Linked DNA regions of Homo sapiens: all the other regions are linked to region 2. The links come from fine-mapping of genetic effects on gene expression. A gene starts in region 2. Each other region holds a variant in brackets. All regions are shown on one strand. Distances are from middle to middle. Region 1 overlaps PROM1 (prominin 1). Region 2 holds the start of CD38 (CD38 molecule). Region 3 has its middle 35 kb from the start of BST1.

Region 1 (5,230 bases), 280 kb before region 2:
TTGTTATCAGCGTTTGTGTGTGTCTGTGTCTCTTCAGACCTATTTTATGCATGTAGAAGCCAACATGTGTATATGGTCTTGTCTCCATCAGTGAAAAAATACTGTATATATTACTTGGCACCTTGCTTTCTTTTTAAACATACAGCTTGATTATTATTTTATATTAGCACCTAGAGAGCCCTCTCATCCTTATTTTTTTAGATCTACCCCTAACAGTCTTACTACCATTTTTTTTAATTGCTGTGAGGTAGTTTATTATTTATCAATTAATTTCAACCATTTTGCTGTTATATACATTGTTATAAATTATTTTAGTTATTTCACAAATATGCAAGTATATATATGGGGTAAACTCCTAGAAATAGAATTGCCAGGTCAGTTTATAATTTCATGAATTTGCACTAAGTGACTTTTCACTGAGGCTGGACTGCAGTGACACAATCGTAGCTCACTGCAGCCTCCACCTCCTGGGCTTAGGCGATCCTCCCACCTTAGCCTCTCCAGTAGCTGGAACACAGGCATGCACCACCCCACCCGACTAATTTTTTTTATTTTTTAGAGAGACAGGATCTCCCCATGTTGCCCAGGCTGGTCTCGAACTCCTGGGCTCAAGCCATCCTCCTGCCTTGGCCTCCCAAAGTGCTGGGATTATAGATGTGAGCTTCTGAGCCTGGCCAGTTTGCACTTTTGATAGATATCACCTAATGGCACTCCATAAATGTTGAACCAGTTTACCTATACATCAGAAAAATGCAGAAACAGCTCACTGAATTTTGTCTACTGTCTTGTGGGGTGGACATTTCTATTTTATGTACATGGAAATGGAGGCTCGGAGAGGGTAACTCACTTAGCCAAGGGTCACATAGCTTGTGAGTGGGCAGAGCAGGAATTTGAACTCATATCTGACTGATTTCAGAATCTTGTTTTTTTCATTATCCTCTTAGACTAGGCTATTACATAATACATTTAGGAGGGTTGAACAATGCATTCCATGAAAATGCTTTGTAAGTTCCAGTACTTCCTAGATGTCTAGAAAGGAAAAACAAGTGGAGTGATTCTGAACATTTGATATAAAGGTTCTGTCCAGGTATTACTCAGTGGAGTTTAGCCCATTCCCAAGGTACCTTTTTGGACACTGTACTGCTTGTTTTCCAGGTGTGTCTTCCCTGCTGCAACATGACTAGGCTCCAGAGTTAAGAGCTGGGCTTTATGCCTCCTAATGTGCCTTTTAACTGAAAAATTATCTTTGTTTTGTTTAGTTTATTTTTAGTAATTCTTCTATTTTTGGAAGCTTATTTACTTTTTTTTAGCCTTTTGAGGTAAATTATTTTATTTTTATGCTTATTTCCTAATAAATGCATTTAAGTCTGTAAAATTACTCCTGAGGACAGTTTTGGCTTCCTCCTCTAAGTTTTTAAATGCGGTGTTCTCATTTTTTTTTTTTTTTCCCGGAGATGGAGTCTTATTCTGTCGCCCAGGCTAGAGTGCAGTGGCGTGATCTTGGCTCGCTGCAACCTCTGCCTCCTGGGTTCAGGCAATTCTCCTGCCTCAGCCTCCTCAGTAGCTGGGATTACAGGCATGCATCACCACGCCTGGCTAATTTTTGTATTTCTGTAGAGATGGGGTTTTACCATGTTGTCCAGGCTGGTCTTGAACTCCTGACCTCAGGTGATCCACCTGCGTTGGCATCATTTTTCATTTCTGATAGTTTATCATTTGAGTTTTGATTCCCCTCTTTACTCATTTGGCTAATAATATTGAATGAATTTTATCTTTTTGAAAAGCAGTGATTTTTTAAAAAGTATGAGTTGTTATAGTTAGTTCAGTAAAAAATGTTAAAGCCTTCAGTGGTTGTGTTCTGAAGTCCACTGGGCTTTGTCCTGAGCTGTGAGCCGGATGCCTAGAGCGATTCATAAGGCCCCTTCACTCTCTCCTCACTGTTTTCTGGAACTGCACAGTGAAACCTGTTCCTTCCATTACAGTTGTTGAGGCATTTGTTGATTATGTCCCAGTTTCCTCTTTGTGAGAGCCCTTGGAAAAAAACCTTCTTTCTAGTCT[T/C]TTTTTCCTGAACAATTGGCCTGGACAGTTTCAGGTGGCTGCTACTGGGAAGTTTTGAAACAGTGAATCACCCTTCGCCACAGGTATAGGACTCTGCTGTACCTTTTGCTTCGTATGTTCCTTGTTCAGCAAACAGGTAAGGAATGAATGCTGTGGGGGATGGAACCATCAGTCAGAGAGCATCTGACTCTATGGAGCTCCTGTTTCCTCTTAGGTCCCCGGGCTTGCTTTTCTTTCTTTTTCTTTCTTCTTATTTATGTTATCGTAATTCTATATGTATCTCTGTAAACCTAGGTAGATATAAATAGAAATAAAAATCCTAATCTTTCTTGAGTGGGATTAAAATAAGAAGAGTCGATAATTTAAAACTAGAGAAGGGAAATAGAGAAGATCTGTTTTCCCCATCAGCCTGGATGAAAGAAGTTTCTTTAGCCTTGCAAGGAGAGTGGTGATTAGTTTACAGAAAATGGCTGGAGAGACAAAGATTCTGTTGAAGAAGCCTGTGGAGAAGAAGCTTCTTAGCTCACCCTGGGAGCCAGAAGGTGGTGATGTGACTGTTCACATTTGGTTTTTCCTTAGCGTTGATTACTTCATGTAGGAGTCTCTAAGTTCCCGAATTATGATTTGAAATGTTTCAATCTGATGCTGTCACTGATGAAATTAGGACATGTTTACTAATTGAGATGAAGGCTCTCTTCGAACCTGACTGCATCCTGGGAAAGAGGAGGTTGTATACGTTTTTATATCCTCTTGGAAACTGGCTGACCCAGAAGCTCAGCCTAATGAGATTTGGACAGCAGGCTTCCAGAAGGGTGATTGATTGTGACATGCTGAGTTTTATGTGCCAGATCTGTGTACAAATGACTGACTACCCGGATGCCTGCCTGGCAAGGAATTGTGTTTCTTTAAAGAGCCATTCCAAATATAACTTGTGCATAGAAATAAAACTGAGAAGAAATGAGTATCTCCTTCTGAAATTCAAGTAAATAGCTCCCTGACTTCAGAAATGACAGCTTCCTAAGCGTTGTATTGCAAAAACAGGAGCAGGCCAGTCTTCCTGAAGACTAATTTGCTCGCATGGAAATCGCATGCTCTCGTGTGAGAGTGTATTTCAAATCTGTCCCCTTCTGACCACCAGGACTGCCCTCTCCCAGCTGAGGCTGCCAGTCCCCTGGACCATGGCCAGGGCCTCCTAATGGGCAGAGAGAATGGGCAGCAGCTTGCAGTAGTAGCCCCAAACCCCTGTAATAGCTAGGCCAGCCGACTCCCTGGAACATGCCAAACGCTCCTAAGCCTCAGACCCTTTGCTTCTCTGCCTATTCCCTTTGCCTGGACGACTCTTCTGCATGGCTCGTTTCTTTTTTTTCTTCTTTCGATTTTTTTTTTTTCATGGCTTGTTTCTTTCCAGCCTTTGCTCAAATGTCATCTCAGAGGGACAGATCGTCTTCCACCCCAACACCCCTCACCTTGCTTCATTTTTCTTTATAGCATTTATTCTGGTATTACAATAAATATTTGTTTATCTCACTTGATAGACTCTAAACATCTTGAAGAGGGGAACACTATTGATTTTGTTCACTCCTCCATACAATAGCCCCAGAATCTGGAGTGGTGCCCACAACGCAGCAAGTACCCCATAATTGTTGCGTGCAAGAGCGGATACACTCTTGTGTACCCTCTCAGGGCCCCCTCCTCTTCCCTTTGTGAGCACCCACAGTCCTGCGTTATAAAGATCCTCTTGCCCTCCTCTGCCACCATGGTTGTTGTTTGGTGGAATCCTAAATCTGGTTGCAGCGTTTTCTGGTTACTCCACTTCCTCAGGCCTACACCCAAGCGGCCGACTGCTCCTAGAAACAATTGCGACTGTGCCAGCTGGACTCTCTTAAATGAATATCCACAGCCCCCACGAGGATGCTCGTACTCCTGACAGCTCTGACCTGTTTCTCAGTCAATCCTCTTTCCTAACCCCCTGCTTGCACACGTCCTCTTCTCTTCTCAAATCTCTACCCTGAACTCTCCTCTGCCAGCTAGAGACCTTACTCTTCATGGAGAATATGGACAGAGTCACTTGCAGACTCACTCACCCCTCCCTGTTTTGACTTCCAGATTTCTACTAGGGTTAGATATGCAGGAAATGTTTTTGTTTGTGTTTAGGATTCTTTTCCCAGAACATTCTTAGCCAAAAGATACGATTAATTTCCAAGTTTTTGAAAGAATTATCAATCCACCAGAAGGTCTGTGATGTTTATGCCACCACTAGTAATGTGTTGGGTATTTAGAAAATGGAATTGTAAAGGCTATGACATTGCATTTTTAAAAATATATATTTCTCATTACCGTCAAGGTTGACCGTTTTCACATCTGTTTCCTTTCTAAGGGGTTTGTCTGTGAAATGCCTCTGCCTAGCTATGTAGCAGAGTCTTAGTCTTTTTATTATTGATTCCGTGACAGCCTCTCTTCAGACGAAAACCCTTTCCCTAGGCTGTTTACCGTGAATTGGTATTAGGCTATTTGGTTCTAGGGAATTTGTGAGTTTGGGGAGATCTTCCGATCAGAAATAATTATTCAATTCCCTACTTCCATTTTGTAGATGAGAACACAAAGGCCCAGATAGGAGAAGCCTGCTCATTTAAGACCCTGCAGCCAAATGAGAGCTGGTAGGATAACGAAGCCAGAAAGAGGACAAGGGGAATTTTTGCCTGGGAGGTTATCTCAGCACACAAGTGATCCTCCTGCCTCAGCCTCCTGAGTAGCTGGAACTGTAGACGTAAGCCACCATGACCAGCCTAATTTATCAAGAATGGTACTGTGATTATGAATCCACATTTTGTTTCTCCAAGGAAAATAGTCTTGCCTAGGAGAATGCTAGGTTCTTAGATCTCATTTAGATGTCTCATTTGGGGCATGCAAGTTTTACTAAGCAATTGCTACAGGTGGACAGCACTGGGTTAGGAGTTACAGGATTTGTGTGGCAGAGAGAACATCTTCTGCTTTAAGGAATGAACAGTCTCTCTAGCAGAGTAGACAAATGTATTTACGTAGAATAAATAGTCCAGGGAACATGTAAGCCAGTGGATCATTAAATGTCACAAGTGAGTTATGAGTTGCAGGGATTTAGTGATGAGGGAAATCAGCTGAGGACCTCACATTTAACTTTGAGGATAGGGATGAT
Region 2 (5,230 bases):
CAAACATTTCCATGCCAGGATTTGTTGGGTTTGAAAATAAAACTGTCATTGTTAGTCTTTCCAAAGAATATCAAAAAAGAAATAGTCTCAAGGCAATGATCGAGTCCAGAGTGCTGCCAGTAAAACATGTTCACAAGGTCAAGATTTCAGGGATGTGGCTGTAAGACTGTATGTGTGTGTGTGTGTGTGTGTGTGTGTGTGTGTGTGTGTGTGTGTGTGTGAGAGAGAGAATATTATCTAAAATATATAAAAATCTCCCATAAGAAATAAATAAGCAGCTCAATAGAAAGTATCAAGTATCTGGACAGGAAAATCACAGAAAAAAATATAAATGGCAAATAAACATATACAAGATGCTTAGACTCACTGATACTGAGGGAACAATTAGATGCTCTTTTTTCTCTTAAGTAAAAAAGTTGAAAATATTCAGCATTCAAGAGATTGTGGGAAAGCATCCCCTCTGATAGACTGATGATGGGAGAGTAAAATGGCACAACTATTTTGGAGTATATATGGAATACCTGGAATTTGGAAAAATCAAAACTTAAAATATGCATAATTCTCCCTTTTACTCAGCAGTTTCATCACTAGAAATCTATCCTACAGAAATACTCCCATATGTACACACAATGTATGTATGAAGATTTTCATTGCATCATGTTTCTCCCAACTAAGGTGAAAATTTCATGAGTGAGAACTTCGTCATTCACTCTTGTGTCATCAGTAGCTAGATCACTGTCTGGAACATAGTGGGTGCTCAACAGATACTTGTTGGATGAATGAATGGGATTGAAAAATTGGAAACAAGCTAATTTCCTGTCAATAGGAAATGGTTACATCTAGTTTATGAAATACTATGGGCTGTCAAAAGAAATGAGATAGATCTTTATGTACTCACATTGAAAGATCTTCAAGACCAGTGTTACTTTTTTTTTTTTTAATGAGGTTGCTTTCTAACATTACCATTTCATTTTGGATTTCACTTCATACTTTACAATACAGCCTGGAGGAACGCCTCAACTTCTAGTTTCTCTCTCCATTAAGTATCTAATTATGTGTAAATAGAACAACTAACGGGACGCTGGGAAGCCCAGGAGGCAAACATTTTGCAACCGGAACTGTTGAGTGTGCTCGGAGAGGCGAGGGAGGTCTATTTGCTCGTTTCCTCGGATTGCTTAAATGCGGGATTTTGCTATCCCAAAGCACAGAGTGTAAAGTAGCAGCTCCCCCTGCCTGCCTTCCCGGCTTCTTCTGTTTTACAAGCAACGATAATTTCCCGGTGAAAGCGAGGCCTGGGAATCAAATCCAAAAAGTGGTTGTTCCCTTTAGGAGAGGTTAGTAGCTGGAAAGGAGCATGAGAAAACTGGAAGGTCCCATAGACTAATGTGTTTTTTTTCCAAGGTTTGTACAGATTCACCGAGTTGCTGCGCCTTATCATCTAAGTAATGTCTCGGTTTTAGAAGTTGACATTGTTTTGTTAATTACTTCTCTGGTCACATGCATTTCAGGCCGCGCAAAAAGAATCGGAGTGCTGCTTTATATAAATGAATAAAACTAAGTTCCGTGGTTTGGCCCTTCTACACCCTCCTCCCCTACCACAGGCTTTGCAAACCACTTAAGTGTCCTCTGTAACCGTCCGGGGGCACTTTCGGGTCAGAGACAGCGGGCGGAAACCGCAGAAAAAGTTGAAAATGTCAGCGACACCCTGCATCTGCGAGTTCTATTCCGTCCCTGAAGCGGTGAAGCGGGCTGAGCGCGCCGAGGGTGGGCTGCAGCCCGGCGAGGGGCTGGGCTCAGGGCACCTTGCCCAGAAGGCGGGCATCGGTGCCAAGTGTTCACCGGCTACGCAGCAGAGCCACCGAGCAGCGCCCCCCCCCGCCTCCCGCGGGCACGCTCGGTGCCAAGGCCAGCTGCTCCTGAAAGCGGCCCGCGGAGCCCCGAGCCCGGGACTCCCTACTCAGCACCACCCGGCGGGCTCTCGGCTGACCCGCCACGGAAGATGCCCGGTTCCGGGCGATCCGGGCGGCTTCCCTGCGCGCGGGGCCCTGCTGTCCCCGCAGTGCCCACCGGTGCGCCTTAGTCGCCAACCCACCTCATCTCAGGATGAATTTCAGTGTACTTGACGCATCGCGCCAGGACGGTCTCGGGAAAGCGCTTGGTGGTGCCCGGACCGCTCCACTGCTGGCGCCACCTCGGGACGACCACCGCGAGCACCACGACGAGGATCAGGACCAGGATACTGACGCCAAGACAGAGTTGGGCTCTCCTAGAGAGCCGGCAGCAGGGTTTGTCCCCGGACACCGGGCTGAACTCGCAGTTGGCCATAGGGCTCCAGGCGGGGTTGGCTGGGCGAAGATGAGGCCGGCAGGAGGCTAGGCAGCAAGAGAGAGGCTGGCTGGGTTCTGAAACTGCACCTCCCCTTCTGTTTCACTTGCCTTTTCTCTGTTTCCCTTCCCACCCCCAACCCCTTGCCTCAGAGTTCCGTGGCTGGTTACACCAATAAGAGTTTAAAAGACCAACAACTATAGGCTCCTGTGCAGTGACCCACCCACTCCACCTCCAGGGAGAAACAGCCACCTTAATCCTCTGCAGGTGTCCTAAGGGGGCAGACAGTACATCCTTATACTCCCTCCGCTAACTCCCTTCATCAACCGGGCACTTTACACCTGAGCCACATTTGCTTCCTGGAAAGCATGAGGGTGGGCTGCCTGCTTCTATACGTGTGTGCACACAATGCCCTCTGCCTGGAAAAGGATGTCCTACCTCTCTTTCTTAACTCTGACAAATGCCTGGTCAACCACCTTTAAAGACTCAACTTAAGTCTGACTCCTTCTCTCAAGAGGCATCAGTGGCTAAGCTCTGGGTTCAAATTTAGTTCTTGCTGGATGACATGGGGCAAGTTACTTAACCTCTCTGTACTTCAGATGTAAAGCCGGGATAGTAGCAGTACCTACTTCATGGGATTGTTACGAGGATTAAGTGAGTTAATATCTACAACGTGTTTAGCACAATACCTGGCACATGGTAATCACCCAGTAAATGTAAGTTGTTACTACCAGCTCTAGGAGCTGCTCAGAGATGCAATTTTATAGTCCATGGAATGTGTTTGAAGCAGGGTCTGGCACACAGTAATAATACTGCACTCTATGCGGGAGTTTAATAAATAATAAAGTGGCTTTTCTTGCCTCTTCTTTATTAAGAGAACATCTGTGACATTCAAGCAGAGACCTAAGTAATGTGAGCGATCAAGTCACCCAACTCCCTTGGGGCAAACATTTCCCAAGCAGAGGAAATGGCAGGTGCAAAGACTCTGAGGCAGAAAAGCTCTTGGCCTGTTCCAGAGCAGCAAGGAGGCCAATTGTAGTTAGGCTAGAGGGTTGAGGGAAACAGAACAGAAGTTCGGAAAGTAGCAGGAGACCAGATCACCCATAGCTCTGTAAGACAGGATGACTTTTTGGACTGTGTGTTTTATTTATTTTTTATCTTTTTTATTTTGTTTTAAGTTCTGGGATACATGTACAGGACGTGCAGAGTTGTTACATAGGTAAATGTGTGCCATGGTGGTTTGCTGCACCTATCAATCCATTGCTTAGGTATTAAGCCCCTCATGTTTTAGCTATTCTTTCTGATGCTCTCCCTCCCTCCACTCTCCCCAACAGGCCCCAGTGTGTGTTGTTCCCCTCCCTGTGTTCATTGTTCAGCTCCCACTTATAAGTGAGAACATGCAGTGCTTGGTTTTCTGTTCCTGTGTTAGTTTGCTGAGGATAATGGCTTCCAGCTCCATCCATGTCCCTGCAAAGGACATGATCTCGTTCCTTTTTGTGGCTGCACAGTATTCCCTGGTGTATATGTACCACATTGTCTTTATCCAGTCTGTCATTGATGGGCATTTGGGTTGATTCCATGTCATTGCTATTGTGAATAGTGCTACAATGAACATATGCATGCATGTATCTTTATAACAGAATGATTTATATTCCTTTGGGTATATACCCAGTAATGAGATTGCTGGGTCAAATGGTATTTCTGGTTCTAGATCTTTGAGGAATCCCCATACTGTCTTCCACAATGGTTGAACTAATTTACACTCCCATCAACAGTGTAAGTGTTCCTATTTCTCCACAACCTCACCAGCATCTGTTGTTTATTGACTTTTTAATGATCACCATTCTGACTGGCATGAGATGATATTTCATTGTGGTTTTGGTTTGCATTTTTCTAATGATCAATGATGTTGAGCTTTTTTTCATATGTTTGTTGGCTATATAAATGTCTTCTTTTGAGAAATATCTGTTCATGTCCTTTGCCCACTTTTTAATGGGGTTGTTTATTTCTTATAAATTAGTTTAAGTTCCTTGTAGATTCTGGATATTAGACCTTTGTCAGATGGATAGATTTTGAAAATGTTCTCCCATGCTGTAGGTTGTCTGTTCACCCTGATTATAGTTTCTTTCGGTGTGCAGAAGTTCCTGAGTTTAATTGGATCCCATTTGTCATTTTCGCTTTTGTTGGAATTGCTTTTGACATTTTCATTATGAAATCTTTGCCCATGCCTATGTCCTGAATGGTATTGCCTAGATTTTCTTCTAGGGTTTTTATAGTTTTGGGTTTTACATTTTAAATCTTTAATCCATCTTGAGTTAATTTTTGAAAAAGGTGTAAGGAAGGGATCCAGTTTCAATTTTCTGCGTATAGCTAGCCAGTTTTCCCAGCACCATTTATTAAATAGGGAATCCTTTCCCCATTGCTTGTTTTTGTCAGGTCTGTCAAAGATCAGATGGTTGTAGATGTGAGTCTTATTTCTGAGATCTCTATTCTGTTTCATTGGTCTATGTGCCTGTTTTTGGATTTTATTTTTAACCCATTCGTGTGCATTTTATTTTTACCCATACAAGTCACCAAATGACTTGATCTGGCATATTATTTTAAAGGATCAATCTGGCTTTGGTATTAAGAATAAATTGTAGGAGGATAAGGATGGAGAACAGTTACAATGGCTGTAGTAGCAGTAATGAAGGTGGCAAAGAAAAAAAAAGATGGATTCTGAATAGAGTTTGAAGGTAGCAGCAGCAGGATTTGCTGATGAATTGGATGTAGCATTTGCAAGAAAGAGATGAGTCAAAGATGATGCCAAGATTTTTTATTTGTGTAACTGACCAAAGGAAGGAAAGCACTGCAATCTACAGTGATGGGAAAACGGGAGGTGAAGTAGATTTGGTCTTGGGAAGAG
Region 3 (5,230 bases), 40 kb after region 2:
ACCAGCCTGGTCAACATGGCAAAACCCCGTCTCTAGCAAAAAGAATACAAAAAATTAGCCAGGCATAGTGGCGTGTGCCTGTAGTCCCAGCTGCTAGGGAGGCCGAGGCATGAGAATCACTTGAACCTGGGAGGCAGACGTTGCAGTGAGACGAGACGGTGCCACTGCACTCCAGCCTCGGTGACAGAACGAGATTCAGTCCCCCCTGCCCCCAACTAATTTAGTTATCAGCCAGTGAGGATCAGGAGATACACTCTCTCCCTGTCTCTCTCTATCCTTATCTCTCTCTCTCTCCCTTCTTCCCTCTCTTTCTCTGTCTCTCTCTGTTTCTCTGTCTGTCTGTCTCTCTCTCTGTCAATGTCTCCCTCTCCTTTTCTCTCTCTCACCGACTTCCCTCCCTCCCTTTCTCCTTCCCCCTCCTACCACCAAATTTTATTACTAGCAGCAATGGTGAACAATGACTTCACTCTGATTATATTTCTGTACACATCTTTTTACCCTACAAAATTTAATCGAGTTTAATGTGTTCCCCTGAGAGCTTGTCACTGTATGTTAACTATTTTAAAATTTTACAAGCACCATCTTAGAGTTACTGTGTCACATGTCCTATAGCAAAGTCATGAAGGTGCAGCTGGCACAAGTCAAATGAAAACCCTTCTACTTTTGTGCAGGGGAGAAATACACACACACACACACACACACACACACACACACACACACGGTTTGGCTTCTTAACATGCATTTTTCTCAAATAAGTAAGTCATTTCAGTGAAGAGTTTGGGTAATTCTGACAGCTACCCTTTAATAGCTACATGATAAAAGAAGTTCCAAAGAACCAAATCACGTAACAAAGAATACATGTGCTTTAGAGAACCTGCTGCATTCTACATCTTTTAGGGGGAAAAACAAAACTATATTCCTAAAATTCTAAGCGGAGTGATTTAATACATATACGTTTCATATTGAAACATGTTTTAAAGAGACTACCAAGAAAACACAAATACATAAGACTTCAAGTAATGAGTAATTATGGTGAAATTAGCATAGTTCAGATTTTCCAACCTGCTTCATTGGTTATGCATGTGGGTGTTTGAAACCCTTGCCAGGTCTTTAAAAACAAGCTCCCAGTCTCAGCAATAGCTGTGCCCTGTTCTCCAGCATGGGCTTTCAATTTGCCCTTCTCTTTGGTGCCAAAAGTCTCCTGAGAAGAGTAAGGCTGAGTTCTGGGTTTCAAATGCCTGTGAATTAAGTTCTAGCAACTGCAGAGTCTCCAATGATGATTCATTGTCCTGAGTTCCACTTTCTCACCCTGGGAAACTTCAGAAAGACTGAAATGGAAATGAGCATTAGGAGCTAGGTCCGCTTGCCTGGGCTGTCTCTCAGGTTAGTGGAACTGGGATTACTTCTCAATCAGCCATGTTCATTTGGCACCTTTGGCAAACCTCAATTTTCACAGCAGGAGAAATAAAAAAAGCTAGTGTTCACTTGGCACATGCCTGCTTCTAGTCTTTACTTTGGAAATTTTCATTGTTGTGTTAGCTTACCAGGGTGGCCATAACGAACTATGAATTTGAGGGAACACAGTTCCGTCTGTAACAATCGTGTGGAAGCTGAACTTCAAACAGGTAAGCTATCAGCTGGCTAACGTGTGGTCATTCCCACTTCCCATCAAGGTTTTTTATTTTTATTTTTATTTTTTTATCAAACTCTCTTGCCTTCCAACATATATTTTTAAATCAAACAATATTTAGGAATGTTTTTAGGATCTTTTTCTCCTTTTATACTGACCAACATCATAGACTCCTCACCCTGTTTAACATCTTTGTATTCTCCGGTCTTTGTGAATGTCCCTCTGCTACCTTACTAGACACACCAGACTGACCGACTCTCTTATCAAAGAATGACTTATAGACGTCATTATTCTTTTTCCCAAGTGTCTGAAATTCCTTTTCAAATTAGGCTTTCATTTTTTTGAATAGGCTTTAATGTTTAGAGCAGTTTTAGGTTCACAGCAAATTTGAGCAGAAAGTACAGAGCTTCCCACATACGCTCTGTCCCCACACATACATAGCCTCCCCCACTGGCAGCATCCCCACCAGAGTGGTGGAGTGGTGCATTTGTCACAACTAATGAACCGACATTGAAACATCATGGTCACCCAGCCTCTGTAGTTTACCTGAGGGTTCACCCTTGGTGTTGTACCTTCTGTAGGTTTGGACACATATATAATCACCTGTATCCACAATTCTAGTATCATGCAGAGTATTTTCACCACCCTAAATATTTGGGAGTCCATTTTATCCTGTTTCCTCTGAAGCTTGTGGAGAGCATTCATGTGGACGGAGCTGGACTAGGCAGGCATGCAATTGACTCAACTCTTGCCAGAGCCTCTGGAGATT[T/C]CGGCTTCCTTGCTGTGGGAGTGGAAGGCATTTACATCTTTGGACTCTCTGACAGTCAGTATCTTCCCCATCATGGTTCCCACAGTTTCCTGTTCAGGTTCAGAAAGTACCTTGTTACCAAGTCTATCGTGCTAGAGGGAATACAGCCAAGTGTAAGGTACCTGGTACCTACGACAGGAGAGGAAAGAGAACTCAGTTCTTCATGTGCCCACCCAGTCCTTGTGCTCAGGGGTCTTCCATGTGCATTTCTCTTTTGGTCAAATGCTTAGCATTGTTCATTCACTTGGTAGAAGAGCATTAAGTACCCATTAAGTGTGCCAGGCATGGAGCTGGTGCTGGGACCTGTTTGTTGAAGACACACGAGGCTGGTTTTCTTAGCTGCTTTTGCCAGGGCTCCCTGCTGCCCCCTTGCTGCCCAGACCATGGAGGAACCGAGGCCAAGAGAGGTGACCTTGGCCAAGTAAGAAAAGCTTTCTATGTCTATGTTTTCTCATCTGTAAAATAGGATAATAAGAGAATTGATCCTATGGGGTCGAGTGAGGATTGAAAGGGGCCATTTATGAAAATACTTCACACAGTGCCCAGTGCACAGTAACTTCTGATCTGCAGAGAGTGCTGTATTGCAGATGGTGTTTAGACAGCTATCAAACAACTCTAGTAGTAGTAACAATAACACTAGCAAATAACACTTATACAGGGCTGATCTACTATACTCCTGGCACTGTTCTGGGTTCTTTATGCACATTCGCTCATTGAATTATGAGTACTTATAATCCCTACTTACACACACGGTGATGCAGCTCAGGTAAGGTAAGTGAGTTGCCCAAGGCTACACAGCGAGCAAGTGCTGAAGGTAGGATGTGGGCCAACCTGTTAGGTGCCAGAGTCCATGCTCTTGGCCACAATGTTAGGCTGCCTCCCCATTTCCTTTGTCTTGATTCCCCAAACCCAAGGTTCTCACCCAATCTGATCAAATGCTGACTAGGTCATGGCTGGTCAGGGTAAAGCATTATGACAGACACAAAGACAAAGAGGTAAAGTTGCTGTCCTCAAGAGAGAGAGACATAAAAACAAATGGATCTGGAACTAAGTAAGGCTTCGAGGAGGAGGTGAGCAAAGGTACCAGATCCAAAGGCTTATGTTGAGAATACGGAACTGAGAGAAGGTTCATGGAGAGTGCAGTGGGGTCTCCTGGGACACAGACCTAGTAAGGCAGTTTAGGGGCAAATGGAAAGATCTTGAATCGCAGATTTTTTTTTTTTTTTGGAGACAGAGTCTCACTCTATCACCCAGGCTGGAGTGCAGTGGAGCAATCTAGGCTCACTGCAACCTCTGTGTCCTTGGTTCAAGCAGTTCTCCTGCCTCAACCTTCAGAGTACCTGGGATTACAGGCACGTGCCACCACGCCCAGCTAATTTTTGTATTTTTAGTACATACAGGGTTTCACCATGTTGTCCAGGGCTCCTGACCTCAAGTGATCTGCCCACCTTGGCCTCACAAAGTGCTGGAATTATAGGCAGGAGCCACTGCGCCCGGCTTCTTGAAGAGCAGATTTTAAAATTTGAAATTTGTCTTGCCAAGGGTAGGAAACCATTGCTGATTTTGAGCAAGAGGACGATGCACTCAGGACCCTAGCGTAGGACATTGCTCTGGCAGCATTGTGGAAGTTAGGCTGAAGGAGAAACCAAGCAGAAGCAGAGAGATCAGTCAGGAGGCAATGATATGTTTGAAACCCATGATTTACCTTGTACAAAGGCTAGAACCGGCGGTTGTATGGTTCTGCTCTGGGTCGCACTCCTAATGTCCCACATAGCCTCTTGGGTCTATAAATATAAATATGTGCATAAAAACACATAGAAAAATGTCTGCTACTCTGCGTGCAGTATGACAGATGAGATTTGCCTTCTTCCTAATTTTTCTGTATTGTGTAGATTTTTTTCAAGTAAAGAGCCATTATTACTCTTATATTCGGGAAAAAAGTGAAGTTATGTTTAGTTTTTAAAAATAAAGCCTTATTTTTCTTATGGAACTCAAAATGGCATTTCTCTAATTGAGTCGCAGGTCACTGTGCTGTGAGTGGCTAAGTCGCCTGGTAACCCAGGCAACATGAAGGCAGCAGACACTGTGTTTTCCAAGCTTGGTCTAAGAGACGCCCCTTGGCTGGGGCTCCCATGGGATTGGCCTAAGGAGCCAGACGGTCCTGAGACAAACCATGAATTATGAATTGGAAGTTGGTTGGTTGGGTCCTTTTCTCTTTCTCTAAGTACCCAAAAGTCTTATGCTGCTTGTCATCTTCCCTCACGGCTCCCCTCACACACCCTAGCAATATCACACACTTCAAGTGTTTTATGAAAGTATGCCATAAATACAGAAAAGCATGCCACACCTTGTTATTAAGCTTCCCTTGTACCCTCCCTGGCCTCCTCCAACAAAAGAAAGCTAAAGAATCCCCCACCCTCTGTTTTCCTCTATTAAACTTAGTTCATTCACACGTGGAAGGTCTACTTCATCCAAGCAGGGCTAGGCTAGGGCTGCAAAGATGAGTGAGTCTGCAAAGAAGCCACAGTCCCAGGGTGAAGTTAGGCAAGGACCCAAACAATGCTGACACCATGAAGATGGGCCCTGTTAGGGAATTCTTTGCTTTTTTGCAGGGAGAGAGGTCAACAGAAGGATCCAGGGAGGAGGTGATGCTTAAGGTATGTCTTAGAGTCTGCCAGATGGGAGACAGGGCAGGAAGGAAAATCAACACAGAGAGACCAACATGTTCAAAGACCCTGAGGAGGGAGAGAGTAGAGAGCACGTCTGGGTAGAGCACCAAGCAACTTGGTTAG

Evidence for each region. PIP is the estimated chance that this variant, and not a neighbour inherited with it, causes the effect.
Region 1: its variant is the best candidate, but not a certain one, in a credible set for the expression of CD38 in gastroesophageal junction (GTEx, PIP 0.79).
Region 3: its variant is the best candidate, but not a certain one, in a credible set for the expression of CD38 in subcutaneous fat (GTEx, PIP 0.85).

What each region holds. Positions count from the first base shown.
Region 1 is chr4:16,054,868-16,060,097 of GRCh38, reverse strand. All of the region lies in intron 2 of PROM1 (prominin 1), which reads left to right. Among named protein-coding and RNA genes, the nearest start is that of PROM1, 27 kb to the left of the region's middle. The variant T/C (reference allele first, on the strand shown) is at 2,059.
Region 2 is chr4:15,775,510-15,780,739 of GRCh38, reverse strand. CD38 (CD38 molecule) reads right to left here and starts at 2,412. Exons shown (of 8, transcript NM_001775.4): 1 at 2,093-2,412. The coding sequence starts at 2,325. RefSeq lists silencers at 1,654-1,703, 1,894-1,943 and enhancers at 2,074-2,573, 1,985-2,627.
Region 3 is chr4:15,735,045-15,740,274 of GRCh38, reverse strand. It overlaps a transcript of BST1 not described here. Among named protein-coding and RNA genes, the nearest start is that of BST1, 35 kb to the right of the region's middle. The variant T/C (reference allele first, on the strand shown) is at 2,400.